4 linked regions of the Homo sapiens genome follow. The protein of the gene in region 4 interacts with the protein of the main gene of each other region in a pairwise test. Each region holds a gene or a part of one and is shown on either strand. Other genes may lie near its edges.

Evidence for each region.
Region 1: the proteins of CERT1 (region 4) and PM20D2 interact in binary tests that used the Homo sapiens proteins (3 or more experiments, as listed by UniProt).
Region 2: the proteins of CERT1 (region 4) and FTSJ1 interact in binary tests that used the Homo sapiens proteins (3 or more experiments, as listed by UniProt).
Region 3: the proteins of CERT1 (region 4) and ACTL8 interact in binary tests that used the Homo sapiens proteins (3 or more experiments, as listed by UniProt).

What each region holds. Positions count from the first base shown.
Region 1 is NC_000006.12:89,163,055-89,166,256, reverse strand, and holds the end of PM20D2 (xaa-Arg dipeptidase), read right to left. Parts: 3' UTR 692-3,202; downstream 1-691. UniProt on the Homo sapiens protein: Catalyzes the peptide bond hydrolysis in dipeptides having basic amino acids lysine, ornithine or arginine at C-terminus. Postulated to function in a metabolite repair mechanism by eliminating alternate dipeptide by-products formed during carnosine synthesis.
Region 2 is NC_000023.11:48,479,199-48,487,968, reverse strand, and holds the end of FTSJ1 (tRNA (cytidine(32)/guanosine(34)-2'-O)-methyltransferase), read right to left. Parts: intron 6,819-8,770; coding exon 6,766-6,818; intron 6,681-6,765; coding exon 6,627-6,680; intron 6,544-6,626; coding exon 6,441-6,543; intron 6,338-6,440; coding exon 6,254-6,337; intron 5,567-6,253; coding exon 5,463-5,566; intron 5,373-5,462; coding exon 5,175-5,372; coding exon of another isoform or gene 5,118-5,174; exon of another isoform or gene 5,015-5,117; intron 4,984-5,014; coding exon 4,951-4,983; 3' UTR 4,942-4,950; intron 4,729-4,941; exon of another isoform or gene 4,628-4,728; intron 2,234-4,627; 3' UTR 1,619-2,233; downstream 1-1,618. UniProt on the Homo sapiens protein: Methylates the 2'-O-ribose of nucleotides at positions 32 and 34 of the tRNA anticodon loop of substrate tRNAs. Requisite for faithful cytoplasmic translation.
Region 3 is NC_000001.11:17,749,974-17,759,279, reverse strand, and holds the start of ACTL8 (actin-like protein 8), read right to left. Parts: upstream 3,948-9,306; 5' UTR 3,776-3,947; intron 1-3,775.
Region 4 is NC_000005.10:75,409,780-75,418,549, forward strand, and holds part of CERT1 (ceramide transfer protein), read right to left. Parts: intron 7,255-8,770; coding exon 7,097-7,254; intron 1,325-7,096; coding exon 1,232-1,324; intron 1-1,231. UniProt on the Homo sapiens protein: Shelters ceramides and diacylglycerol lipids inside its START domain and mediates the intracellular trafficking of ceramides and diacylglycerol lipids in a non-vesicular manner.

The sequences.
Region 1 (3,202 bases), on a different chromosome or scaffold from region 4:
AGTCTAAGGCTGGGCACAGTGGCTTATGCCCTAATCCTAGTCTTTTGGGAGGCCAAGGCAGGAGGATCGCTTGAGCTCAGGAGTTTGAGACCCCATCTCTATAAAGAGTTTAAAAATTAGCCGGGCACATGCCTATAGTCCCAGGTACTCAGGAGGCTGAGGCAGGATTGCTTGAGCCTAGAAGATGAGGCTTCAGTGAGCCATGATCACAACACTGACTGTACTCCAGCCGGGGTGACAGTGAGAACCTGTCTCCAAAAATAAGAATAAAAATTAAAAACCAGTTTAAACAAAGAAACATGGACATTTGTGACTTTTCTCATATGAGGCACTTATACTTTAGCCAGGATCCAAAAACCTGTTCCATTGCATTTATGTTATTATATGGAATTACTCTGTATTAAATGTGTAAACTTTTTTTAAAAAAGGAAACTCAATACTATATGTATTTACCTCCTGCCATGTACAATTTGCACTGCAATTTTTTAGCTTCTGAGACTAGTGAAACATTCATTTTTAAACAAAAGAACTTAATTGTTCTTTTAAAATATTTGACACATAGTGGAAAAGCAAGTCAACATCTATGATACTGATGCGTAAGAAAAAGTATAGTATATCACAATGGATTTGGATGATTGTGCTTCATCTTCGTACATATATCTTCAGGTCATTAAAAAAGCAAGACAATTGCTATCAGATAAACATGTTTATTGTAGATTTTTCATACACATTTTATGTACCTATTATTACAAAAAAGCTTATAATCTGATGGTAGTAGACTGATTGCTTACTTGAAAATATTAACTTCATACATATCAAAATACACCATCCTCAACTATATAATTGGACTGCAAAATGCTTGATATGAAGTATGTAAAAAAATAAGCAGTTTATTATACCTTACAACCTTATAAAGGGTTGCTATCTAGTACAAAGATAACATTTATCTTATAACAAAAATTTGATAGTTTTAAAGGTTAGTATTGTGTAGGGTATTTTCCAAAAGACTAAAGAGATAACTCAGGTAAAAAGTTAGAAATGTATAAAACACCATCAGACAGGTTTTTAAAAAACAACATATTACAAAATTAGACAATCATCCTTAAAAAAAAAAACTTATTGTATCAATTTCTTTTGTTCAAAATGACTGACTTAAGTATTTTTAAATATTTCAGAAACACTTCCTCAAAAATTTTCAAGATGGTAGCTTTCAGATGTTCCCTCAGTCCCAATGTTGCTCAGATAAATAAATCTCGTGAGAACTTACCACCCACCACAAGCTTTCTGGGGCATGCAACAGTGTCTTTTCTTTTCTTTTTTTTTTTTTTTTTTTTACAGGCACAGAAACTCATCAATTTTATTTGGATAACAAAGGGTCTCCAAATTATATTGAAAAATAAATCCAAGTTAATATCACTCTTGTAAAAAAGTTGAGCACACTTTTCACAAACAATTTATGTAAAAGAGAAGAAAATACACATAATTTTACATAATATCTTAAACTCTTTTATTCCCTACCATAGACATTTTGTCTTGTTTTCTTTCAGTTTTCTACAATTTCCAACTTGTACCTGTGTTTAATACTGCTTTAGTGTGCTAAAGACATTAACTGATTGCTTTCCTAAATCTAAGGATTATATAGTTTTAGTATAAATATATATCATATATTTTCGTAAAACTTTGACAAAACCAAATAAGCAAGCCTTGTTTTAAGTCCACGCTCCTGCCACTGTTTACAAAATTTGATTTAATGATCAAAAAACTATTGGTTGTCACTCTTCTGTTACAACAATCTTCCTTGTGAACTGCCACCCAGTTTTTACATAATAATAACAAGCAATAGAAAAACCAAAGAAATTATGTTAATCTTAGCTCTTCCTTTGCAAGTGTCTTTTCTTCTTACACCCAGTGCTTAGAAATAGGCACTCCTCAACCAGTGTTCACTGAATTCAACTGCTGAAATTGTAACAGTTAAATTATCAACACAACTCTTAATAAATAAACATTCCTTTGGGAAATTGTGGGAAATCAAAACACTTTTAAGTTTATACAAGTATTCATAAACATAAAATATTCTAGTTTATCCTAATGCCCTAGCTCTTATGAGTGCTATAGAGGCAATTAAAAAGGGAAAATTTCTTGAGTAGTTCACATGTGGAGAATTTGTTAAAACCGAAAAGCAGTCCAAAATTTTTAAAAGGCATACTAAATATTAGCTATACTCACTATTACATGGTATATAGCAATTTAGTAATTCATAGTACCACATATTTTACTTTAAAAGCAGGTCCCATATTAAGGCCTGCTTTTAAAATTGCCACTAAAAAGAAAATATTTTCAATTTGTATATTTAAACCATTAATTTAGATAACATCTTTTAAAGTCTACAAATTTAACATAGCCAAGAGTTGGTATTTGAGAAAAAGGTTTCAGTACAGGGTGTGAACAATGAAAAATTATAAAGGCATGTAATAAAAATGTTCCATAAAAACAAAGATACCTCAAGCAGGTCCACCTATACCTCTAGTTTAGTTTAGAAACTAATTCAGTATTTTAAGAATCATATAATTTTAAACTTTGCACTAAGCCTAACCTTTTTAAAAAATGGTCAGGGCCAGGTGCAGTGCCTCAAGCCTGTAATCCCAGTGCTTTAGGAGGCTGAGGTGGGAGGACTGCTTGAGTCCAGGAGTTCGAGACTGCAGTGAGCTGTGATTACACCACTGCACTCCAGCCTGGGAGAGCAAGAACCTGCCCATTAAAAAACCAAACAAAAATGGGCAGGTGTGGTGTCTCATACCTGAAATCCCAACACTTTGGGAGGCCAAGACAGGAGGATTGCTTGAGCCCAGGAGTTTGAGGCCAGCCTGGAAGCTACAGCGAGCCCCTGTCTCTATTATGTAAAAAAATAAAAATTTTTTTAAAAAAGAGGTTTTCTTATGTGTACCTGAAGCAAAGTAGTAAGTATATCTTTTCTTCTCCACGTTGTACAAGAGATGACTGTAAACACAAAATTAAAACTCATCTTAGGATCATGGTCCATCCACGAAGCTACTTTAAACTCTGATGATTCCAAGCAAGGAAGCAATATTTGCTTATTCAAAAAGTACTGAATATTCAGAGTAAGCAATATGCTAGATACTGTAACAATTTAAAAATACCAACACACATGTGTATTAAAAAGACACTGGCAGGCCGGGTGCGG
Region 2 (8,770 bases), on a different chromosome or scaffold from region 4:
CTGGGAACTGGACATTACTTGTGTCATAAAAACTTGGGTGGGGACACTCCTGAGGTGGCTGGACTGGGGCAAAACCACTCCCAGGACACCACAGACTGAGCTGTGGACTCCTCTGTGGTCACCGTTTGAGCTACACATTTATGGCACCACTAAGATGGCTATGGAAACTCCAAGCCATTGCCACTGCTGGACTCACAGAACCTGGCGTGAGGACACTCCTGAGGTCTCACAGGCTGTCGTGTGAACGCTGCTGAATTTGCACTGTAATGGGTGTGGCTACGCCTGTGGTCACACGGCCTTTTGTGTGGACACTTCCGCCATACATTCTTGGGCTGTGCATATTCACAGATTGGGGTGTGGGCATTCCTGTGGTCACACTGACTTCGGTGAGAAGACTCCTGGGTTAAGTCACCATGGTGTGGACACTCCTAGACTGACACAAACTGGGGTCTGGACATTCCTGGAGTCACACAGACTGGGGTGTGGTTATTTTCGTGGTCAGAGACCGGAGTGTAGACATGCCTATGAACACACGCTCCAGAATTTAAACACCATTTCTGACTGGAGATTGGACAATGGTTTTCCCAGACTTGAGTGTGCATACTCCTGGGGTCACACATGGTAACTGGGGTGAGTCACAGTCAGGTGTGGAAACAGCTGGGGTCGCAGACTGGTATGTGGATACTCCTGAGGTCACTGGACTGTGGCGTGGATAGTCCTTGGATCACAGAGTACGTGAATTTCTAAGGACACAGGATTAAGCTGTAGAAAACAGTTCTGTTCGTGTAGCTGGGGAGTTTCTGTCAGCTCCTGTTCATTAAGTTATAGAAATTTAGGACTGCAGTCCAGGTAGACTTTCTGACATTGCTTTTTTTTTTTGAGACAGAGTCTCACTCTGTCGTCCAGGCTGGAGTGCAGTGGCGCGACCTCGGCTCACTGTAACCTTCATCTCCCGGGTTCAGGTGATTCTCCTGCCTCAGTCTCCTGAGTAGCTGGGATTACAGGCATGTGCCACCGCACCCAGCTAATTTTTGTATTTTTGGTAGAGACGGGTTTCACTATGTTGGCCAGACTGGTCTCAAACTCCTGACCTCAAGTGATCCGCTTGCCTCAGCCTCCCAAAGTGCTGGGATTACAGGCGTGAGCCACCACGCCTGGCCCTGACGTTTCTTTAAGACAGGTTTTTAACCTAAAAAATTTGTTCTGAAGTCTGGGTGCGGTGGTTCACGCATGTAATCCCAGCACTTTGGGAGGCCGAGGTGGGTGGATCACCTGAGGTCAGGAGTTCGAGACCAGCCTGGACAAAATGGTGAAACCCCGTCTCTACTAAAAATACGAAAATTAGCCGGGTGTGGTGGCGGGTGCCTGTAATCCCAGTTACTCGGGAGGCTGAGGCAGGAGAATCGCTTGAACCCAGGAGGCAGAGGTTGCAGTGAGCCAAGATCACACCACTGCACTCCAGCCTGGGTGACAGAGCGAAATTCTGTCTCAAAATAAATAAATAAATTTGTTCTGCAGAACCCTTTGGCATCTGGTTAAATCTGTGAACCCCTTCACAGAATATTTTTAAAAGTATATACATACACATACACACACACACAATTACAATGGAAGCCAATTACATTGAATTACAATTATTACTATATATTAAATTGAAACAAAATTGAGATGCAGTAATATATGGGCTTTTTAATTAATACATCAACTTACAGGATCTGCTATCATTCCAAGAGGTGACAAATATGAACAATACTTCAAGATGCCCTTTTTATGTTACATTACAGTTGCTGTAACTGGTTTGTATTGGTGGGAAAATCCCAGGTACTGCTTTTACTACTGTGATTTGTTGCCAGCATTTATAACTTGGGAGTAAGGCTAAATTTCAGTTTCATTGCTGAAAATAAAGATGTAACATTTTCTTCCATCAAGTTCATGGTTACCCCTGGCTTCTATCCAGGTTAAGAATCCCTGCCTTTAGGGAAAATTCTGGACATAATCAGGACACTCCTGAAGAGGTTTAAAGAAGAGGTAAGACCTCACTCAAGAATTCCCACTGCAGTACAGACAGACTTTCATGGTTTCTTTCCTTGTTGTCTTCAGGGTTGTTGCAGATCCCTCCTCAGGGCTTGTTTGTCCAGGCCTCGTTGATGAGATGATATTTTGAAAACAAGTTCATCAACAAGTTCCGGTTTTCCTGACATTGAGCAGTTTCTGAGTTGTATCAGTTTGCCAGCTAACCAAAAGTCAAAGAAAGTTTTTTTGTTTTGTTTTGTTTTTTTAGAGACAGGGTCTTGCTCTGTCACCCAGGCTGGAGTGCAGTGGAGCTCCATCATAGCTCACGACAACCTTAACCTCCCAAGCTCAAGTGATCCTCCCACCTCAGCCTCCCAAGTAGCTGGGATTACAGGCAGGAATGTGCCACCACACCTAGCTAACTCTGCTGCTAACATTTTTGTGACATTTCCTCCTTTTATGGTGAACCATGACATATAGAAAATGCATAAAACCTATATATGTTCAGTTTAATGAATAACTACAAGGTGTTATTTGGTGTAATTGCAGGATGTTCACTGTCATTGTTGTACAGTTCTCCACGGTGAATGTACCACGATTTAATGGGCATATACTATAGATAGTGCTGCTAGCAACACTCTAGGACTCATTTCCTTTTTTTTGAGATGGAGTCTGACTCTGTCACCCAGGCTGGAGTGCAGTGGCACGATCTCAGCTCACTGCAACCTCCACCTCCCAGGTTCAAGTGATTCTCCTGCCTCAGCCTCCTGAGTAGCTGGGATTACAGGTGCCCGCCACCATGCCCGGTTAATTTTTGTATTTTTAGTAGAGATGGGGTTTTGCCATGTTGGTCAGGCTGGTCTTGAACTCCTGACCTCAGGTGATCCACCCACCTCGGCCTCCCAAAGTGCTGGGATTACAGGCGTTGAGCCACGGCACCCGGCCTCTAGGACTCATTTCTTAGGAGTGGAACTGGCACACATGCAGCTTTAGTAGGTAATGCCTAAGTTTCCACAGTGGCTGCACCATTTTACCTTCCCAGTAGCATGTACGAGGCTTTCAATTGCTGCATATCCTTTCAAATACTTAGTGTTGTTGATATTTTGAGTTTTCACTTGTATTTTCCTGATGAGCAGCTTTTCATGTGCTTACTGGCCACTCTCATGTTTTTCCTTATTGATTTACAGGACCCTTTAAATATTAAAAACTGTAAATCTCTTTCACACAATGATTTGCTGTTTCAATTTTTTCTTAAGGTGGCTTCTTGTGGCCAGGTGTGGTGGCTCAGGCCTGTAATCCCAGCACTTTGGGAGGCCTGAGGCAGGCAGATTTTGTGAGGTCAGGAGTTTGAGACCAGCCTGGCCAACATGGTGAAACCCCGTCTCTACTAAAAATACAAAAATTAGCCGGGTGAGGTGGGAGCACACGTCTGTAATCCCAGCTACTCAGGAGGCTGAGGCAGGAGAATCTCTTGAACCCGGGAGGCGGAGGTTGGAGTGAGCTGAGATAGTGCCACTGCACTCCACCCAGCCTGGGCGACAGAGCGAGACTCTGTTCTCAAAACAAAACAAAAAACAAAACAAAAAAGGCCAGGTGTGGTGGCTCACACCTGTAATCCCAACACTTTGGGAGGCCGAGGCAGGTGGATCACCTGAGGTCACGAGTTTGAGACCAGTCTGGTCAACATGGCAAAACCCCATCTCTACTAAAAATACAAAAATTAGCCATGCATAGTGGCGGGCACTGTAATCCCAGCTATTTGGGAGGCTGAGGCAGGAGAATCGCTTGAACTTGGTAGATGGAGGTTGCCGTGAGCTGAGATCATGCCACTGCACTCCAGCCTGGGTAACAGAGTAAGACTCTGTCTCAAGAAAAAAAAAAAGGTGGCTTTTTGTGATGGCTGACTTAGTCTGAATAACCTGCTATGCCATTGTCAGAAAGGGCCATCCTCTAACATCGTGGTTTTAGAACATTTGGCTATGGATAAACTTTCCTCCCATACCACGTGCAGTTCCACCTTTGGGACATGCCTATTTCCTTTACCCAGAATGCTCTTCCCTCAGATAAACACATGGCTTCCCTCCGGCAGTGCCTTCAGGTCTTTGCTCAAACATTACCTCTGAGGAATGTCTGAGGCCTTCTATGACAACCCTTTTAAAAAGTGCAAACTGGCTGGGCGCAGTGGCTCATGCCTGTAATCCTGGTACTTTGGGAGGCCGAGGATGGCAGATCGCTCGAGCCCAGTAGATCGAGACCAGCCTGGGCAACATGGCAAAACTCCATCTCCCCTAAAAATACAAAAATTTGCTAGGCATGGTGGTACATGCCTGTAGTCCCAGCTACTTGAGAGGCTGAGGTGGGAGGATTTTTTGAGCCCGGGAAATCACACCACTGAACTCCAGCCTGGGCGACAGAGTGAGACCTTGTCTCAAAACAAAAACACCAAAAGATGAAAACTGCCATGCCTAGAATTCCTGATTCTCTTCACCCTGCTTTACTTTTTTCTATTTTTTATATCCCATATTACTCTTATATATTATATATATTGCAAGATATGTAAATTGAGAAATGCAAGCTATATAGTATATATGTGTATGTAAACTCTTGCACTTACAGACTGTTTTGATTGTTGCCTCTTTTCCAAACTGGAAGTACTGTGAGAGCCAAGATATTTCTGTTTTGCTCCCTGCTCTATCTCCAAACCTAGAACAACACCTGACATACAGTATGTGCTCAATAAATGTTTACTGAATGCCTCAAATGTAAAATGCTTAAAGCAGTTCCTGGCATACAACAACAGATGTTTAGAAAAGGGTTTGTTGATTAAAATCTTATCAGTTGACATAAAAATTTCAAAGGTGAAATTTTACTGAGGTTTTTCATAAAGGTTGCCCTTACTCAAACTCTTAGATAACAAGGCAAACTTACCGTAATGGGTTAAGGTGAACAACTCATTTCATTGTCTTCCATCTACCCAAGAAAAAGAAAAGTGACTCACATATTTGGCGAAACTTTTCCATTCATTATGCTTGGCTTTACCAATTTTTTATAGCTATTGGGAGGCAGGAAAGGGAATTTTGGCCCCAGAAACCATGAGATTTGGGTCAGAAAAAGGCACACGGGGAAGGGGTCAAGGCAGGCTGAGAGTCACATTTCCAGACCTCAGGGGCCAGCAGGGTGTGGCACTGAGGGGCGGCCAGGGGCTGGGGAAACGTGTCCACTCTGCTGATGGGGCAGTCCTGGGGGCGGATCTCCTTGGCCAGCTGCCCCTTCCTCTTCAACGTGCAGGCCTCCTGGTATGGTGGCGAGATGGGGGGCTGTGTGGGTGGAGTGTACTTGTACTCTGAGCCGCCCTCTAGCTGCAGGGACAGAGGGGTAGGGAGATGGTGAGGACCTGGTAACCTAGGACAGCCTCCCTCCCACCCACCTACTGTTGGTTGGGCACTCACGTCCAGTGGGTAACTGCGGTCCGAATCATAGGAGCTCAGGTCCCCACAGGTCACAAAAGGCACAATGATGCGGGTGGGACCATCCAGCTGGTTGAAATCTGGGTCTTAGGAACAGGGGGAGACAACTGAGGACAAGGTCAGGATGCCTGGGGCCAGTCATGACACAGGCGGCGGTATGGCTGCCAAACCCTCCCCACATATCCACCAGCTACTCTCTTCCCACCCCACCAGAAATCCTTCATTTGGTTCAGATCACCTCCTCGGGGAGGCCCTCCATAATCACCCCTTCTAAAACATCGGTGCCCTGCTATTTTTCACTGCATTTATGTCCACCTGATATTGGATTATATGCTGCCTGGATGACGTCTCCCTCACTCAAATGTCATCCCAGGGGCAGGCTCTGTCTCTTCCTGCTAGAGGCTTAAGGGGCAAAAGTTTCACACCGAGGAGGTTTCCACCTGGGACATGACTGAGATCTTCCTAGGAGAGAATGTCCTTAGGCAGGTGGAGTCTCCACTGGGGCAGGGCTCAGGATCCTCCTGGGATGGAATTTTCACCAGGCCCAAGAGTTACCACTAGAGGACTGCCTGGGCTGAAGCTCCTCCCGGGACAAAATACCCATAAAGGGGTGGGATTTCCATCAGAGAATGGGGCTAAGGATCCCCTTGGGAAAAAAATTCCCATGAGGGGACAGAGCCTCCCCCAGGGGGTGAGACTGTGGGCCCTCATGGGACCTAGATTGCATAAGGTGTGGCAGAGTCCCCCAGGGTGGCCCATGCTCCAGCTCTCACCGTAAGAATGGTCCAGCAGGGGTTTGCTCAGGTCCGGGATGAAGCCCTCGGGAGGGTCATAGCCCTGACAGACAGCGAAGGCCTCTGCCAGGGGAAGGTGGAGTGAGGCATGACTGCCGCTTCCTCCTCGTGCAGTCGGCGTCCCAGAGATCCCCCTCTGCCTGCCTGGCCCCTCCACCCCACTGACCGATGCTAGAGTTCCGGCTGCTCCTGGGCTTGGCACACAGCACGCTGGAGAAGAAGACCTGCAGCTGGCTGTAGAGGAGCGTCACATCCCGGCCTCGGAATATCTGCAGGGTGAGAAGGCAAAGACAGCGGGTGAGGGTGGCCCTCAGCGACCTCCCTCTACTCCACCAAGTTCCTTGAGACTTACCTTGGCCACAAAGCAGCCCCCTGGCTTCAGGACATGTGTAGCAATGTTCAGAGCCTGTGGGCAGGACAGACGGCTGAGGCTGAGGTGGAGACAGCCAGGAGGGGGCCAAAGTGGGTCAGGGGTGGCCAGGGTTACTCACAGCTAGGAGGAGCTGGGCCTGCATATACTCATCAACATCATGGAGACCGGTTACTGTGGCAAGAGGAACAGCGTTAGGGGGGTCCCATCTGGCTCTGTGCATCTTCTTGTACCACACAGATCAGACACTAAATACATTTTCCAGGCTGTCTTACTGCTAAGGTTCCAGATGCAAATTACTGTCTGCCAACTGGATGCATATTCTGAGCTCCTAACCCTTAGGAACTCATTTCAATTCTAAAACAACCTCACACACAAGCATCATTATCATTTCCACCTCCAGCCCAGACTGTTCCTCTGAACTCCAGATTCACAAATCAGATTCTACATCTCCAATACATCCACAACCAAACTCCTGACCTACCTCCCCAAACCTGCTCCTCCCACCATCCTCCCCATCTCATCTGAGCTTTCTAATTGTTCAAATCCAAAACCTTAGTCACCTCTGATGCTCCCCCCGCATCCTCTCCTCACACCCACATCGAAGCCATTAACACATCTACTTTCAAAAGATCTGACTTGATCTTCTCCTCTCCACCACTGCCCTCACCCATTATCACTTGCCTGGACTACTCCACCCCGGAGCCCCTGCTTCTGCCCTTGGCCCTCACACAGCTCATAGTAGCCCAAGCCCAGCACAGTCCTCTTCTCCTCACAACCCTCTCATGGTTTTCTCCAAGCTCTCATCTCGGTGAAAATGCCAACAGCCTCACCATGGCCCACGAGGCCCTATAGGATCTGTCCCCTGTTACCTCTCTGATGTTACCTTTTACCACTCTCCCCCCCTCACTCTGTTCCAACCACAGTGATCTGCTTGTCATTACTCATACATAGCAAGCACCCTCCTGCCTCAGGACCTTTGCACGGGCTGCAATTTTTCCTGGATTGCTCTTCCTCCAGACATATCCATAGCTTACTCCCCCACCTCCTTTAGTCTCTGCTGTTAAGTCAGTGAGGCCTTCCCCATCCACTTGATTTAAAATTCCAACAGGTACTCCTGCTTTCCTCCTGCTCAATGATTTCCCTATGGTACCCATCCCCCACCCCACCTTTTTTTTTTGAGACGGAGTTTCGCTCTTGTTGCTCAGGCTGGAGTGCAATGGTGCGATCTCAGCTCACTGCAACCTCCGCCTCCCGGGTTCAAGCGATTCTTCTGTCTTAGCCTCCCAAGTAGCTGGGATTACAGGCACATGCCACCACACCTGGCTAATTTTTGTATTTTTAGTAGAGATGGGGTTTCATCATATTGGTCAGGCTGGTCTCGAACTCCTGACCTCAGGTGATCTGACCACCTCAGCCTCCCAAAGTGCTGGGATTACAGGCGTGAGCCACTGTGCCCGGCCTCCTCACCCCGTTTTTTTAGAGAGAGGGTCTCACTCTGTTGCCCAGGCTGGAGTGCAGTGGTGCGATCAAAGTGTACTGTAACCTCGACCTCTTGGGCTCAAGTGATCCTCCCACCTCAGCCTCCTGAGTAACTGGGACTATGGGCATGCATCACCATGCCAGCTAATATTTTAAGACAGGGTCTTGCTATGTTGCAAGGCTGGTCTCAAACTCCTGCCTCAAGTGTTCCTCTCACCTCATCCTCCCAAAGCACTGGGATTACAGGTGGAAGCCACCATGCCTGGCCCCATCCCCTTTTAATGGTACAGAGCTGAATCATTTATTTTCTTTCCCATTTGCTCCCACTAGAACATCAGCTCCATGAGGTTAAAGATTAATGGAATTTTATTCATGAATGTTTTCCCAACACAATAGGTGCTCAGTAAATGTGTGTTGAATGGCTGGCTGGCTGAAAATGAATGAACAGTGCAACGGAATTGGACAGTTGCAGAGAGATGAGAGCAGGGAAAGGTAGACAACAGACATGAAACTCAAAGGGTGGGGTGCAAGTGGGAGGAAGAGAGAGGCAGAGAGAGAACAGGCAGCAGAGGTAGGGAGAAGTTGCCAGATGTGGGAGAAAGCTGAGTGCGGAAGGGAGAGGCAGGGAGTAACTGAAGAGGTGA
Region 3 (9,306 bases), on a different chromosome or scaffold from region 4:
GGCGCCCTCTACTGGCAAAGCCCAGCTTGCTGCCTGGACAGGGAGAAAATTTAAAGGGCCCAGATCCATTTTCACCAGGCAGGCAAGAAGGGTGATTGGACACAGAAAAGCAATAATTGATAACCAGAAAAGCCCATCTCTTTGACTACTTAGCTTCCATATGAATCCTCCTGCACACCACTGAAGTCCTGTACAACAACACAACTGCGTATTTCTATCTAAAAAGATGCAGCTATCATCCTTGTAAGTTCTCACTCACTCCCCAAAACAAGGAGACTAATAGGCCCAGGAGTCGTCATGGACTATATTTATTAGGACTTAAATACCGATCACAGTTCCATGGAACATTCTGTCACCTAAAGACTATAAAGTCGACTTCCAAAAACTTGCATATAAAACAAAAATGGGAAGAAGAGAGAAGAAAATGGATAATTACCAAGTGTGCTTACTCTAATTGTTTATTCAGGAGCTCAGAAAATAACTTCGGGGTGGGCATGGACCAAGCAAATCTACTGAGAGTCAGACTACAGCTAAGACTCTATCCCTGACCATCACAAGCCCCACTTTGACTTATGAGCCAGAGTGGCATTTTAGATCCCCAGGAAACAGCATCAGTTCAGAGTTAGTGCCAAGTAACTCCAGAACTGTCTGGGTATGTCCATTTCCCTATTATTTTGGTAAATGGTCACAGGTCCCTTTGGAGGAAGGTTTGGAGGAAGATTTACAATAAGTATTTATGGCAATGATGCAGGCTCCTTCCTCAAGGGGACCCGGCCACCCAGGGATTCTGGGTCTGTGAATTGACTTAGGGTCTGGAAACTGAATGAGAAGCCATGACTATCAATTGCCAGGTTTTGGCTACCGGGCCTAGAACTTTCTATCACATATAAAAATACATGAAATAATACTCTAGTAGGCTGCCCACTTATTTCATTCCCAGAGACACTCTAATCAATTCACCACCACTAGAAATCCCTGTGGGCAAAGGCATTCTGCCTTCCCATACATTCCTGCTACCCTCTCCAATGTGTGCCCACCTTGTCCTTGACAGTGAAGTGCTGCCCCTCGGTATCTGCTACTCCAGGACCCCCTTATCCCCACTGAAATCAGGGAGCCCATCTCAATGGAGGCAGCCTCTATATTCACAGTGGCCTACAAAAGAGAGCAGCCACTGTGCATTTCAAGGACAAAGGGGCTCCCTCACTAATGGATCTCTCTATGTCTCTGTCTTTGGGTCCTTCTTGTGGAACATAGGTGGTGGCAGCAGGGGAGTGCAGATTAGACATGATACATGCAGTCCAACATTGCGGTCTCCCCAAGCCTTTGGATTCCCTCTTCCACATCATGACATCACAACCCTCATTAACTGCAGGTTACTGTCAAGTCCAAGTTTCAGTCAACCAACCAAGCTGTTAGAGCCACCTCCAGCTGCAGAAGCTAACAGCCAAATTCAGAACCTCTAATGAGTGTGCCCGTATCAATGCATCCAGCCCAGGCTAGTGTTACATTCTGCCTTCCTGGATCTAAAACCCTTAGAATCCACTCCCATACATGTCACCAGTCTTGTCGTTCTTTTTCTGTTTCCTCCTAGGTCTGTGTATACCCGCCACCGTGGAACATGCTGAGATCTGACCACAGCTAGGGGCTAGTGACAACAGCAGGTGGCTGTGATGAGTCTTGAGAACAGCATCTGCTCCAGCCGAGATTATCACAGGGTTTCTTAACAGAGAAAAAGCAGTCTCCTCCAGCACTGCGGAGGGAAAGGTATTTCCACTTGATAAGTTGGGGTGGGGGTGGGGGGGGTGGGCTCAGAGTGACTTGCAGTTTAGATTGTCAGTTTCATCAGAGTCCAACAACTGCCCCCATTCCATGTTTCAGGACCCCATTCTTTCACGATTCATGCCCTAATTTGTCCAGATGTGATTCCAACTGTTGTCATAATTCAGCAACCAGCACAATTAAATTTTTTGTTTTATTTTCAGCAGTCTCAGCCTTGTGGCTGCAAGAAATAAGAACTTCCTTAAGGGCTGCCATGGAAGCTGTCTGATTCTCAGACTGTGGCTCGAAGGAAGAGTTAATGGACCTGGGCTTGTCATTTTCTATGTCATTATCTACACATTTTTCAAATTCTTATTATATTATTATTTTTTAGAGCTAGGGTCTTGCTCTGTCACCTGGCTACAGTGCAGCGGTGCAATCATAGCTTACTGCAGCCTCAAACCCCTGGGCTCAAGCAATCCGCCTGCCTCAGCCTCCCAAAGTGTTGGGATTAAAGGCCTGAGCCACCATGCCTGTGCCCGGCCTGCCTATGTATGTTTTAAATAGAGCATAGTATCTGGTTCCTTGAAGACAGGAGCCCTCAAAAGGATCCATCCCACCCCACAGTTCTCACAGTCCTCATTATGGCCACACAGTCAAGTGCAGCATCACTCTGGCTCCCAACAGACGTGCCTCAGGTGGCATTTTGTCTTAACCGCAAATGATAGACTCATATAATGTCACCACATGCCTTGGGTAACTAGCACCCCATTTCCCATTGGCAAGGAACTTGACACTACACCCAAGCCCAAAATCACCAGAAAACCACTCCCAAAATGGTACCTCTGTGGTTCCATCTCCTGATACCTATTCCTGACACCAATTCTGTATCAGTTTGGGTCCAGTCAAGGAAAGGACACCATACAGTGATTTTTACAGGGAAAGTTTCATATGAAGAATTATTAACTTATAATAGAGAACTGAATTAACAAGAAATTGACTGATAAGGAGTAAAGAGAACGATAATTAATACAGAAACAGCAGACGCAAGGAGCAACCACAACCCACAGAGCTGAGATGGAGTCTCTGAAGACCAGACCCCATCCAGAGCTGTGATAAACAACCCCCCGCTAAGAATCCCCCAAACCAGAGCTGGACAAAGCTCTCAAGGAAGAACCCCTCAAGGCCAAGGTAGAGTCCCCAAGAAAGAGCCCCTGGGGGCTTTCATAGGTTCCCCAAAGATAAGTCCCCCACTAGAGGTTTAAAAAAAAGTTCCCAAGAAGAGGCCCCCAGGGCTGAGGCCCCCTGGGAAGAGCCCCTATTCAAGGGATAAGATAGAGCCCCAAAGAAGAGCTCCCAGAGCTACCAAGGAAGGGGCCCCCTACCCAGGGCTGTGATTGATCCCCCAAGGAAGAGTCCCCTCCGAAGGCTGAAATAAAGTCCACAAAGAAAAAGCCCCTGAGGGCTGCGGTAGAGTCCCGAAGAGACACCCTCCTGCCACCTGTGACAGAGTAAACGTCCTCAAAAAAAGAGCCCTCCCAGGGCTGACGTGGAGCCCCCAAGGAACAGCCCCCCACCCCAGGACTGAAATAGAGCCCCAAAAAGAGACCCCCATATCAGGCTGAGATAGAGACCTCCAGAAAGAGCCCCTCACCCCAGGGAAGGGACCCTCCACCAGGCTGAGATAACCCCCTCCAGGCGGTGCCCCCACAAGGGGCTAAGCTTGGGCCCCCAAGGAAGGGCCCCCAGTCCCACACATGTGGCTGAGGTACAGCCGCTATGGAAGAGTCTCCTCCAAAAGCTGAAATCAAGTCCCTAAGGAAAAGCCCTTGGTCTGAGGTAGAGCCTGTCACTCCCCAACCCCACAAAGAAGTGCCCCACACACAAACCCTTGGGGGCTGACAGCCAGGCCTTGCTTAAGAGGGCATGGCTGTGCCACAGGAAGGACAAAAAAAAAAAAAAAAACAGTCAGGGGCCACAACCAGCCAAAGTTAGAAATTCAACTTTTAGAACGTACCAGAAATCTGCCCTGTAAGATGCCACAAAAGCTGCTCTCAGAAACAGTGTCTCACAAGAGGCACCCACTGCAAAACAACTTGAAAGGGGTGCTGTGTGAGCTGCCGAACTCAGCTGCACACTGCAAACGCCTGCACGAGAGCGGCTGCACGTGGTGCCGCAGCCTACTCTGTGAGCACGTGGCAAGCAGGAAGCGGAACCTCCCCGCTGCTGGGGCTCCCCAGCGCCCTCTACTGGCAAAGCCCAGCATGCCTGCTGGCCAGGGAGAAAATTTAAAGGGCCCAGATCCATTTTTACCAAGCAGGCAAGAAGGGTGAATGTGGAGCGGAGAGGCAATAATTTGACAACCAGCAACAATGAAATATCAGCAGTGAAAAAGAAAATAACTACTGATACATAAAACAAATGCATTAATCATATACGTATTATGCTGAGTAAAAGAAACCAGACGCAAAGCAGCACAATCTGTAAGTTTCCATTTACATTATGCACAAAATTCTCTGAAAAGAAATTTAGAGGAAAGAGACTTTAGTACAGAAAACAGTTTGCAAACTTGGAGATGCACCCTCCACTGGAAAATGAAGGGGAGTTCCCAAGAATGAGGGAAGCATCAAGTTTTGCGCAAAAGTTCCTGCCCAGGTTCCCAATCAGATCAAGATGTGCAAATGAAGGATTGAAACTTGCTTAGTTCTGATTGGTCAATATAGCTGAGCTCTCATTGGTTGATACAGCCAAACCCTGATTGGTTTATACACTTGAGCCCTGATTGGTTGGTTCAGGTGAGCTGAGAAAGTACCAAAGATAAAAAGGTGCAGGTTTTCTGGGGAAGTCAGGGTAGTTGTGTAACCATAGTCAGCAAGTGGCTGCTTCATTCTATTTTAAATTTAGGCCCACTTACCCATTCTTATTTGGGGGGGGGGTAGTATTTATTTATTTTGTAGAGAACAGGGTCTTGGTATGTTGCCCAGTCTGGTCGTAAACTCAGGGGCTCAAGTGATCCGCCCACCCTGGCCTACCAAAGTGATGGGATTACAAGCAAGAACAGCGGAGCCTAGCCCACTTAGCCACTCAGGATCCATCTTGAAGGTCTGGCCCTTTCAGGTTCACATTTGTTCACAGAAGTTCAAGAACAGGCAAAGCAACCTACAGTGACAGAAATTAAAAAAAAAAAAACAGGTGGAGATGGGTGTATTTAGCTGGAAGAGGGCACAATGGAATTTTCTAGGGCAATGGAAATACTCTCTATTGCAATTGGGGTGCTGTATACATTTGTAAAAATTCATCATACTGAACACTAAGATCTGTGTGTTGCATTGTAGATAAATTATACCTCAATTTTTAAAAATTAGCCCCCAAACTTGGTTTCAAATCCAGTCACTGTGTACTACCTGTACACAGTGGGTGATATGGTTTGGCTTTGTGTCCTCACCCAAATCTCACCTTGTATTTTAATAATCCCCACGTGTCAAGGGTGGGGCCAGGTGGAGATCATTGAATCATGGGGGCTGTTTGCCCCATACTGTTCTCATGATAGTGAATAAGTCTTACGAGATCTGATGGTTTTATAAACGGGAGTTCCCCTGCACAAGCTTTTTGCCTGCCGCCACGTAAGACGTGACTTTGCCCCTCCTTTGCCTTCCACCTTGATTGTGAGGCCTCCCCAGCCAAGTGGAACTGTGAATCCATTAAACCTCTTTCCTTTATAAATTACCCAGATTTGAGTATGTCTTTATTAGCAGCATGAGAACAGACTAATACAGTGGGTAAACAAATATTGTTGAATAAATAAGTGCACACATGAATCACACATTCTTTTTGCTCCCTCACAGCAAATTTCTGATGGTTCCCCCAAATTACTAAGCTATTGGCCTGCTTTTCTGGGCTCCCATAGTCCTCTCCTCTTAGTCCGGTTGCAGCTTTTATTACACTAATGTTAGCTTCAGAGAGGCAAAAATCTCTGCTTCTACCAGAGAACCCAGCATGTCTTGAGTGCTCTGTGCCTGACACTCTTTTCAAACTCTCATAGGACAATAATCTATGCGGTAGTTACTCCTATCATCCCCATTTTACAGATGAAGAAACTGAAGTATAGTTTGTCCTAGGGCCCACACTCTTTATCACTTTGTCTTGGAAGTCAGACCATCCTAGGTGCAAATCTCAGCTCTTCCACTTACTAACCATGAGTCTTGGGCAGGACAACTGACTGATGCAGGGCAGGCAGGCCCCAAAACAGAGCTTAGCCCATGAGGGTTCTTGGCTTCCTCCAGGCAAAAATTCAAGGGCGAGAAGAAAGTGTAGAAGAAAGCAGAGCTTTATTGAAGGGCCAGTGATAAAGCTCCAGTCTTTGACTGCTCCTGCAGAGCAGGGCTACCCCATAGGCAGAACAGCAGCTCAGGGCAGCCTCACAGTCGTATTTATACCCATGTTTAATTACATGGAGATTAAGCAGTGGTTTATACAGCAATTGCTAGGGAAAGGGTGGTAACTTTTGGGTTGTCAGGTCATTGCCATGGAAAGGGGTGGTAACTCCTGCATGTTGCCATGGCAATGGTAAACTGACATGGCCTACTGGTGGATGTGTCTTATAGAAAGCTGCTTTGCCCCCTCTATTTTAGCTAGTCCGCCATTTGGTCCGGTGTCCAAGCCCCACATCAGGAGTCAAGTCCTGCCTCCCACCTCATGATCACTCTGAATCTTGCCCTACTCATCTTTGAAATGGGGATAATAATATTTTCCTCTTGGGTTGTCTTGAGGTACAAATGAGCCTGTCCACATAGAAATTTTAGCCACAATGTCCACCCTAGAACAACCACTTACTCTCAGTAAATGACAAATTTCATCCGTTCTAAGACACACATTTTCACATTTTCACATCCTTGAAGTCAAAATGTGTTTTACAATCGATGGCATCTCATAATCTCCTTGGACAGTGACAGTTGTGACAGTCGTCATTGTCTCTGCAAGAGCAAACCTGGTTCCAACTGTTCCCATTGTTGACACTTCCATGCCTCAGCATCAAATAGCTCTTTCAGTAAGAATAAAATAAAAATATGATGGGCTAAGAAAGCATCATGCCATACTTTCGTTCACAGCCACTTTTCTTTCTTAGTGGTACATAAATTAATGGTGTGTCTTGCAGCTTAGGTTTGATAGAATGCAGTACAATATTATTATCATAAGTCTCTCGTCCACACTGTGGGTGATTGGATTATTGTGACCTATTCTTCCTGCCTCCCTGTTAGAGAATTAGGCATCCTTGCTTTTGCTATGTGATTTTGCAGTGCCTCACATCAGAGGAGGCAAAGTGTATTTCCCCACCACACTGATGATGTAGGCCTTGCCCGTGTAACCTGTCTCCATATGTGGGCAGCATGACAGTACCCCAGTTCTAAGATGAACCCTTAGGAGACATTGTGTGTTCCTTCCCAGTCATGAAAACAGGACCTGAGTATTTTTCTTTTTCACTGGTGCAAGGAGAATGAGAGACAGGTGAAGCCAACCTGGCCAACCTGCAGCCTGAAGCAGAACCACCCCAGCCGACCCAGCCAGCTGGGAACAAGAAGGATAACTGCTTGTGGTTGCAAGCAACTGAGATGTGGGAGCTGGGGGCTGCTTGTTATGGGGCATTAGCATAGCAGCAATAGCTAATACACTCACTAAACTACAGGTGCTTTAAGGGCAAGGCTCATGGCTCGTTTATCTCTATATCCCTAGCATCTAGACTGGTACCTGGACATGGTGGGTGTAGAGGGCACAGGGAGAGACCATGGAAAAAGGCAGGCTTTGGAGTCACACAGATTGGATTCAAGTCTCAGCACTGCCACTGAAAAGCTAGGTGAACTTGGGCAGTCCTCTGGAGTTCCCAAGCCTCAGTTTCTTCATCTGTAAAATGGGGAACCCCATATCACAGGAGTGATTCAAAGGGAAATGAAGGATGTGCGGGGGCCTCGCTCAGTCCCTTGCAGCAGGCGCTGCAGACGCACACTGGTTCGCTTATCACGGTAGATGTTTGTGATATAATACATGACCAAGCCCCCTGTAACCCATTTCTGTACCCCCAGACCTGCCAGAAAACTCTCTTCCAGATGTTCCTGGCACATGGCAGCAGGTTCTAGCGAGGAGGGAATATTCCTGGGATAGAAGGTCTGGAAGGAGCCAGGAGAGGCAGTTGCCAAGCTGCTCCCAGCAGCCCAGTCCCCCAGGGACCCCTTTACCAGTTCTATTTCCAAGTGCCTGGCAGCCAGGTGCCTGGGTTGGTGCCAGGTTTAAACTTGGCAGACTTTGTGCTCCCCTAGAATTTTCCACCCCAGTCACTCCCTGTGAAAAGGCAAAGGTGGAGAAAATAGCAGAGGAGAGGGCTGCCCATCTGGCCCAGGGAGGGGGCAGGAGTGACCCAGCTGTCCTGACGGGAGTTCTGCCAGCCAGGGGGGCCCACATGCACAGCACATTCTGGTCCACCCACTGTGGGTCCTACCCTGGGAGAGTGTTCAGCAAGGAGGCCTGGATTCCAGGCCTGACTTTGCCACAGCCTGCTGTATGGCCTGGACAGGTCTCTTAACCTCTCTGTGCCTCCATTTCCATGTCTTTACAATGGGTAATATCTAGACAGTCTCCATGGTTTGGGTCCCAGACCCATCTGAGAACCTGGTGGAAGCCATGGACGGCCTCCTGAAAACAATGCATTAATTTCAGCAGTCCAGGGCCTGGGAGCCAACGACCCCAAAGGAACCATCTACTGGGCCCAGAGAGGCCTGTGCTTCCTGGACTGTTAGGGCTACAGGCCCAGGGGCTTATCTCCCACCTGGACCCTCTCTGATATCTCTCTTCCAAGGAAGCCCACATGGTCACGGAGAGAAAGCCCAGTGGACCTTCCTCCCAAGCTGCTCTCCACGTGGCCTCGGGGACACCAGGTTCCTGGCCTCCTCCATCCCTGATCATTAATTATCCCGTGGTTGCCATGGTTTTTCTGAGTCTTCCACACAGACCAGGGCCAGAAACAAGCAGCAAATCAGATCATCAGCCAGTCTTGGGCTGGAAGGGTCTCCAGAGGTGACCTATACACACACACACACACACACGCACACACACACACACTCACTCCAGTCCTGTGCCTCAGTCTTCCACCCCCAGTACCCTGGGGCTGCTCCCCACCCCAGGGGCCCACTGACTGGCACCATCACTTCCTCTTCTGCTCCCCACCCTCTGACACTGTTGTTCCATTTCTGGCAAAGCCTGTGGTGCCCACCACAATCAATAAGGATTAGGGGGCACAAATGGTTAAAACCGGGCAGCTAGGAACTGCAGCATCATCAGCCCTGTCACACCCTGGCTACATGACCCTGGGGTTCATCGACGATATTTTCTATGCTGCCATTGTTTTCTTACATTTCACACAGCCTTCAACATACATCGTGTACTATACAAAGTGCTTACGTGAATTTAATCCTCACAACAAACCTACAAGATAGTTATCCCCACATGTTATTTATCCATTACTGTGTAGTCAATTACTCCAAAACTTAGCAGCTTAAA
Region 4 (8,770 bases):
GCCTCCCAAAGTGCTGAGATTACAGGTGTGAACCACCGTGCTGGCCAACACGTTTTTTTTTTTTTTTTAAAGAGACAAAGTCTCGCTCTGTCACCCAGCCTGGAGTGGAGTGGTGCAATCGTAGCTCACTGCAGTCTTGGGCTCCTCAGTAGCTGGGACTACAGGCATGTGCCACTATACCCAGATAATTTTTGTTATTTTATTTTATAGAGATGAAGTCTTGCTATGCTGTCCAGGTTGGTCTTGAACTCCTGGCCTCAAGCAATCCTCCTGCCTTGGCCTCTCAAAGTGCTGGGATTACAGATGTGAGCCAGTGCGCTAGCCTCAACATTGTTTAATGGCAATTACCAAATATATTTCTTACACATTTTTTTCTCTTAATATAGAAAGCTTATAAGATTTTAATGTATGTGTGTATATACATGTGAAGGAGATTTTATTACCTGCTTAACAAATAAACACAAGGAGAAAAAAGCTGGTTTCAGACATTTTCAAACAAAGACAATTAGAACAGTTTTATGTTCAGCTATGGATAAGATCTCACAGTAGGCCGGGCGGGGTGGCTCACGCCTGTAATGCCAGCACTTTGGGAGGCTGAGGCGGGCGGATCACGAGGTCAGGAGATCGAGACCATCCTGGCTAACATGGTGAAACCCCGTCTCTACTAAAAATACAAAAAAATTAGCCAGGCGTGGTGGCGGGTGCCTGTAGTCCCAGCTACTAGGGCAGCTGAGGCAGGAGAATGGCGTGAACCCGGGAGGCGGAGCTTGCAGTGAGCCGAGATCGCGCCACTGCACTCCAGCCTGGGTGACACAGCGAGACTCGGTCTCAAAAAAAAAAAAAAGATCTCACAGTATAGTACAGACTAAAATCTTTTTGTCTGCAAAGTACTCAGATTTTTCCTTTATAGTTTGCTTTTATGTTAAAAAAAAAAAAAAAGTAGATAACATTAAAAATGATCATCTTTACAGGGGAGATAAAAATTTGTCCTATCAAGTGAACAGGCCTAATACTAAGCCTTTTGAAGCCTAAACTTTGTAGGCAATAAGAAATATATATTTGAGCATGCCTGGCATTTATATATCATGAAATATACACTGAATTAACATAAACACTGAGGAAAAAATTATATATTTAGAATATTTAAAGGTTACAAGAGTATTATTAAAAAATCACTTTTGTGATAGACATGATCTATGTGTTTCTCTAAGATCAAAATATAAATTCATACTTCATAATCTGGTCCTCCAAAGTGGGATTTTTTCTTAAGTTCTGTCATTGCATTTTTATATGCTTCCTCTGTTCTTCTTTTCTTCTCAGTTTCCTATTAAAAAGAAGTGAAAAATCTGTAATTTGAGGCAGGCATTTTAATTACAATGAAGTCTTTTAGGTGGAATTCCTCTACATTTCACTGAAATTTTACAATTTGACACAAAAAAATTCCACTCCTGTGAAAAATAAGAGTATTATTCTGCCCAAGAAAACACTTTTCTCTAGGCTATAAATTACTTACAACCTACTATTTATGTATGTATGTATGTATGTATTTTTTGAGACGGAGTCTTGCTCTGTCACCCAGGCTGGAGTGCAATGGCATGGTCTCGGCTCACTGCAACCTCCGCCTCCTGGGTTCAAGCAATTCTCCTGCCTCAGCCTCCCAAGTAGCTGGGATTACAGGCTTGTGCCATCACACCCAGCTAATTTTGGTATTTTTAGTAGAGATGGGGTTTCACTATGTTTGTCAGGCTTTTCTCGAACTCCTCACCTCGTGATCCACCCTCCTCAGCCTCCCAAAGTGCTGGGATTACAGGTGTGAGCCACTGCACCCGGCCACAACCTACGATTTAAATCACCACTAAAATCACCTTAAAAGTAGGTTATGTGTTTAAATGGTTAAGTAACTGCATGTATACTTAAAAAGAAAAGAAAAGAAAAAAACCCAGGTAAATTAGCACCTGAAAAATACCTACTATACATTCTTATACTTCCCCTTCCCACCAACCCCAGTTAAGAGATACATTTATTTTGGTATGAAGAAAAACAGCAAGTAATACCAGAAAAGAACTCAGTAGGTGGGATCAATGAATGCTAAAAAGATATTCTAAGAAAGAAAACCTTCTTATACTTTCTCACTGCTGCTTAAGACTGTATTTTAGCGTTGAAAAAGACTTTAGTTATGTATTTTAACACTCTCCTTTTAATGATAGGGCCTATAGCTCTAAAAGGTTAAAAGACCCAGGGTCAACACTTAAAATAACAAAGGTTGGTCCCATATAAAACTTATTTCCACAACAATGGGGTTCACTGGGTCAAAACTGATACTGGAGTCCAGTATGTTTGTAAATAATCTAATGCTTTTATTTCCTCATTTCAAATAGTCATACATGGCTTTTTTCTTTTCTTTCTTTTTTTTACCTTGTCCAAATTCCATTTTCTAAAAGACTGATTTGCTTGGTCCCCCTATTGGGTAATGTAAGCACCACACTTTTGAAAGCGAAAGGGAATGTTAGTAATAATCTTGCTGAATTAAGAACTGCCTTGGTCAAACCAGGATTCATGGTCACTCTGGCTACAGGAAATGTAAACAGCTCTTCCTATTTCCCCTTATTCCCAAAAAAACACTACTCTGAAGAGCGTGATCATCAAAAATCATAAGAGAACAGATTATGCTTGTGATCTAAAGAAGGCTAGTGAAAGCCACATGTATTTACTGTCACATGTTAGTTCACCATGGGGATACAGTCTGAGAAATGTGTCACTGACGACTTAATTCTTGTATAAACATCATAGAGTGTACTTATATAAACCTAGATGGTATAGCCTACTACACATCTAGGCTATAAACATTTACAACATATGACTGCACTGAATACTGAAGGCAATTTTAACATGATGGTTAAGTATTTGTGAATCTAAACATAGAAAAGGGACAGGAAAAATATGATATAAAAGATAAAAAACAGTATACTTGCACAGGGCACTTATGAATGGAGCTTGCAGGATTTGAAGTTCCTCAGGGTGAGTGAGTGAGTGAGTAGTCAATGAATGTGAAGGCGTAGGACATTACTGCACACCACTGTAAACTTTTAACACTGCATACTTAGGCTACACTACATTTATTTAAAAATGTTCTTCCTTCAATAACAACCTTAGCTTACTGTAACTTTTACTTTATAAACTTTTTAATTTTTTAAACTTTTTGAGTCTTTTGTAATAAGATATCTTAAAACATAAACATTGTACAGCAGCACAAAAATATTTTCTTTATACTGTATTCTACAAACATTTTTCTATTTTTTAAAAAATTTATTTTTTTTAACTTTTTAAACTTTTTTGTTATAAACTAAGAGACAACACACACATTAGCCTAGGCCTACACAGGGTCAGGATCATCAAGATGTCACTAGGCAAAAGGAATTATTCAGCTCCATTATCATGTTATGGGACCACAGTTGTATATGTGGTCCATCACTGACGGAAATGTCGTTATGCAGTGTATCACTGAACTTAATGGCTAAAGTCTAAACTGAACTCACACAAAGCAAACTACTTCTAAATACCACATCAGCGTTAAAGACAGTGGAAATCAATGAATCAATGGGTTCATTAGACCCAAAGATTTCATTAATTGATTTTTGTGTACTAAAGAGAAAATGGGACTACAGATCCACCAGAATGACTAAGCCAGGTGCAGTGGCATGTGCCTGTAGTCCTGGTCATTCAGGAGGCTGAGGCAGGAGGATCACCCGAGCCCTGGAGTTCAAGGCTGTAGTATACTAATGGCTGTGTCTGTGAATAGTCATTGCACTTCAGCCTGGACAACACAGTGAGACCCTGTCTCTCAAAAAAAGAAAGACTGTCCCCAAAATCAAACAACACCAACACCTATACACACACACACACACAGACGCACACACACACAATACCAAGTACAGTCAAGAGTGAACAACATCAACAACACCCACACACCCACACATCCCTAACAATACCAAAATGCTGTCAAGAATTAAAAATAATTGGAATCCTCACCCATTGCTGGTAGAAATAATCACTTTGGAAAATCATCAGTATCCACTAAAGTTAAGCATATACCCCTATGAATCAAGAAGTCTACTCCAAGGTATGAGAAATATACCTAAAGATATGCCCCAAGAACTCTCATAGCAGTTTCATTCATGATAGCCAAAAAATGAAAAAAATCTAAATGTCCACCAACAGGAAAATAGATAAGCAAATTGAAGTCATACAATAAAAAGTTATACAATAAAATAGTGTATAGCAATAAAAAAGAATAAACTACTATTAAATATAACAACATGAATGAATCTCACAGTCAAATGTTGAAGGAAAGAGAAGGCCTGACTCAAAAGTATACTGTATGATTCCATTTGTATGTTGTTCCAGAACAGGCAAAACTAATCTATAATGACATAGGTTAAAACCATATGATCACCTCTTGGGGTGGTGGTATGATATGGAATAGGAAGGAGCATGAAGGAACCTTCTAGGGTGCTAGAAAAGTTATATATCTTGATCTGTCTATGGTTAAGGGGTGTATACAAACGTTAAAAAAAATCAGGTAGTATACTTAAGATTGGTACACTTCATTGTATGTATGTTATGTATTAATTTTAAATGAATAAAACAAAAATGCACAGCACAGCAATAATATTAAAGACTTACAGGAAAGTGAAAATGTATGTAAAAGTACACACCTGTGAATCTAATAATGTAAGAAAATGTATCTTCAATGAACAGGTTATCTCTTATTAACACTGTTAACCATAATTGCCTAATTTTAGAATTTTTGGTTTTCCTGGACATGACTGGCTAACAATTAAGTACACTTCTTCTACAGTGGAAAGGATCATTATTATTATAGGTAACCAATAAAAATCATCACTACAAAATAGTATTTTCAATTAGCTGAAAGAATCCTGGAACTGACATTATAAATCTACATAAAAGTATAATATAGACAATTCTATTATTAAATAGCTGTTATTATCACCTATTTAATTGCTCTCATTAGATTTTAAGCCCCTTGAGAGACTATTTCCTGCTCATCACTGTTTTCCCATTCCTAGCTTAGAGTCAAGCACACAGCAGGCACACACCTGAATGAAACAATTTCAGTGAAACCATATTGTTATCATTGTACTTTCTTTCTCAATTCTAAGAATTACCTGAAAGACGTATTTGTTGATAAACAACTTTCTCTATTTAAGAACTTTCTAGTCTTTAGTGTGTATATATACACACACACACACACACACACTCTACATACAAAAGATTAGAAAGTTCTTGAATAGAGTTGCTTACCAATAAATACACACATACCCTGCATATATTATGTATATATATATGAACACACACATACTGTGTGTACACACATGTGCAAATACACACACACTTACATTCCATGTAAAATGTAACTGGGATCCAGTTATTTCAACCTTGAGAAAAAATTACAGTGGAAAAGGTTAATAAAATTTGACATCAGATAGATCTGTAAGAAGACTATAAAACACAGTAGTGTCCAGATTTTAACCAATACTGCCTGCCATCTTTTCTGGCTGTTCTTTGGTGGAGAGTGTTGCATGGAGAAGCAACAAAAGTGGTTTTTTTCCCGCAGATCTTTGGTTTGCTCTGCTCATTGCTACCCAATAAAGAAAGAGAACTGGTAAGATTAACAATGCTGAAAGCAATCAAAAATCTATCTCCCCTTTTCAACATGGCAAATAAACTTGAATGCTAAAATAATCAGGAAGTGGTATATAATGTGCAAAGGTTTAAAAAAAATTATTTTAGGCAATGTGGTTAGAGTATATGACCAAAGAATATGATCCCTTAGTGAAGGAAAAAGAGACTAAAGAGAGAGAAAGTTGCCAAAAAGTTGGAAATAAGCTAGTCTGGACTAGCTGAATGATAATCTTGAACCATTAGTCTAATGTATTTAGGGAGTTGTCCTGTTTTTCAATACATTGTTTTTTTTTTGTGAACAGGGACTCTTCTAATAATTCAATTTGATCCACACTGAGTATAGAGTTGAAATCTTTGAAGATAATAATAGTTTGGCTCCAGAATGATAATAAATTTTCTATACCTTAAAAGGATGTTTTCATTACCTATTTTAAAAGAAGACATATTCCTAATCAAAATGGCTTACTCTCACCTGCACTTGTGCATTCTGAACAGCTCTCTTTTCTTCTAAAACATGGGAACCTTCCTAAACACATAGTGCTATCATTGCTTTCCTTAGTGTCCCGCTCAAATTCAAAGGCCTTCAAACTCTGCAAGCAATATAACTCAGAATGAATATGATTCTGGCTGATGTCTAATCTGGCATCCAGAGCTGATATATAAAAGAATAGAGAAAAATGCCTCTAACTCTATTACTTTTCACCTTTTGACAAGCCTCTGGGCCTCAATTCCTTCTTCTATAAAATGATGGCATTGGACTAGAACTTTAAGGTATGTTTCAACTCTAACATTTTACTATTATTCTAAAGCTGAATTATAAATAGAAGTTTTCCTACTTAACAAATCCACTGAGCCATGCTTCACACTAGAAACTAAAGAGTCATACTATAATATTATCAGTGCTGCAGTTTAAACAAAGGTGGGAAAATGTGAACATAGGGCAAATGCTCAAACAACATAATGTATGTTAAATGGTATCACTGACCATGGAAAAAATACATGAGTATTACTATAATAAGTAAATGTTTAACTTTGTAAATTGGCATATAAGTTAGTTCATATGCCTTAAATGCAGTTTCATACATCATGCACCTAAAGGTGTGTAATGTTAAATGGCTCAACACTTCTATTCCAAAGCATTACTAACATCATCACAAAAACTTTTATATTAAATCTTTCAAGAAAGCATACTGTATAGTAACTAAACAAGTAATTGGTGAATCTTGTTAGGCAAATGAGTTTAGGATGCCCATAAAGCTTCAGAGTAGTAGTATCATCTGCTATTTCTATCAACCCAAGATTCTTCCCTAAGAAGTTAGCTTGTTTTAAATATTCAAACAATACGTAAAACTTAAATGTGATTATTTTTAAAAGGAAAAAAACCTAGTCTTACCTTATCCAGTCTCTTCTGCCAGCTGTCCTCACGTTTAACCATTAGTTCAATACAATGAGAAAGTGTTGCAAGGATTCCAGCAGTAGTTGCTTTAAAAGTTATCGCTTCCCCTTTAAAGTCTATACCATTAATTCCTTTTGGTGTCACATGTGGAAATACTGAAAATGAAAATTATTCACTGAAAATATCTCTAATGAGGAAATAATTCATCACAATTTAAGATTAGAAAATGTTTAGAAAATTAGCAAGTCAGAGCAGGTTTTGGGATTTTAATTTTCCTCCTGTAGGCCAACATTTAAAAATCTCCTATCCAAGCTCTATAAGCAAAGAAGCTTCGTGGCAGCATATGTACTTTCAAGTCCTTTTTTTCTAGATTCTGTTTCCTGAAATTTATTTGCTGTGCTGCACCCAATTAATCAAATGGTAGGAGGAGCAATACTTTAACAATAACATTCTGACAGCTTAGAGTAGGACCTAATTATGGCAAGAACTACCTTATTATTTTGAAAAGCCTAGAATTAAAAAAAATCTGAAGATAAACTAAAGAATCTAATAAAATAATATACAATTTAAAAATAAACATACAAATTTAAATCCAGGACCAATGCACTTAAACTCAATGCCTTTTACGTTTCAATTTTATCATTTTAATTCATGGTTAGCTTTTGAATTAAACAAAAAATCTTAAAACTCAAAGATGCAAACAAGAAATCATAATATTCTATAGTTAAGAAATCATTCTAGTAGAATAATTATAAATGAAATAATGTCAATTTTGACTTTAAAAACGATTAGAGATATGACAGTAAAGGTATAATCCATCAAAGAACAAATTGTGAAACTTAAATCAAAATGTAAAATTTCTGCTCTTGAAAACACTGTTAAGAGGATAAAGAGATAAGCCACAAACTGGGAGAAAATCTTGTGTGGCATATATTTAATAAAGACTTCTATCCAGAATATATGAAGTAACCTCAAAGCTCATTAATAATAAACACTGGCTGGGCGCGGTGGCTCACGCCTGTAATCCCAGCACTTTGGGAGGCCAAGGCGGGCGGATCACCTGAAGCTGGGAGTTCGAGACCAGCCTGACAAACATGGAGAAACCCCGTCTCCACTAAAAATACAAAATTAGCTGGGTGTGGTGGCGCATGCCTGTAATCCCAGCTACTCAGGAGGCTGAAGCAGGACAATCACTTGAAACCGGGAGGTGGAGGTTGCGGTGAGCTGAGATCACCACACTGCACTCCAGCCTGGGTAACAAGAGGGAAACTCTGTCTCAAAATAATAATAATAATAATCACCAAGCCCAACATGAGTAAAAAATGTGAACACACACTTCACCAAAGAGCAGATATAAATGGCAAATAAAAACATGAAAAGGTGCTTAATATCACTAGTTAATATGGAAATGCAAATTAAAACCACAATGACATATCCCTACACACCTATTAGAATGACTGAAATTTGAAGACTGACCATATTAAGTGTTGGTGGGGATATGGAGGAACTGGGACTCTCATATGTGGCTGGTAAAAAACAGTTTGGCAGTTTCTTTAAAAATTAAACACACCCACACCCGCCATATGATTAGAACATTCTACTCCTAGGTATTTACCCAAAATAAATACAATAAATTTCCATGAATAGAATTGTATATGAATGCTCATAGCA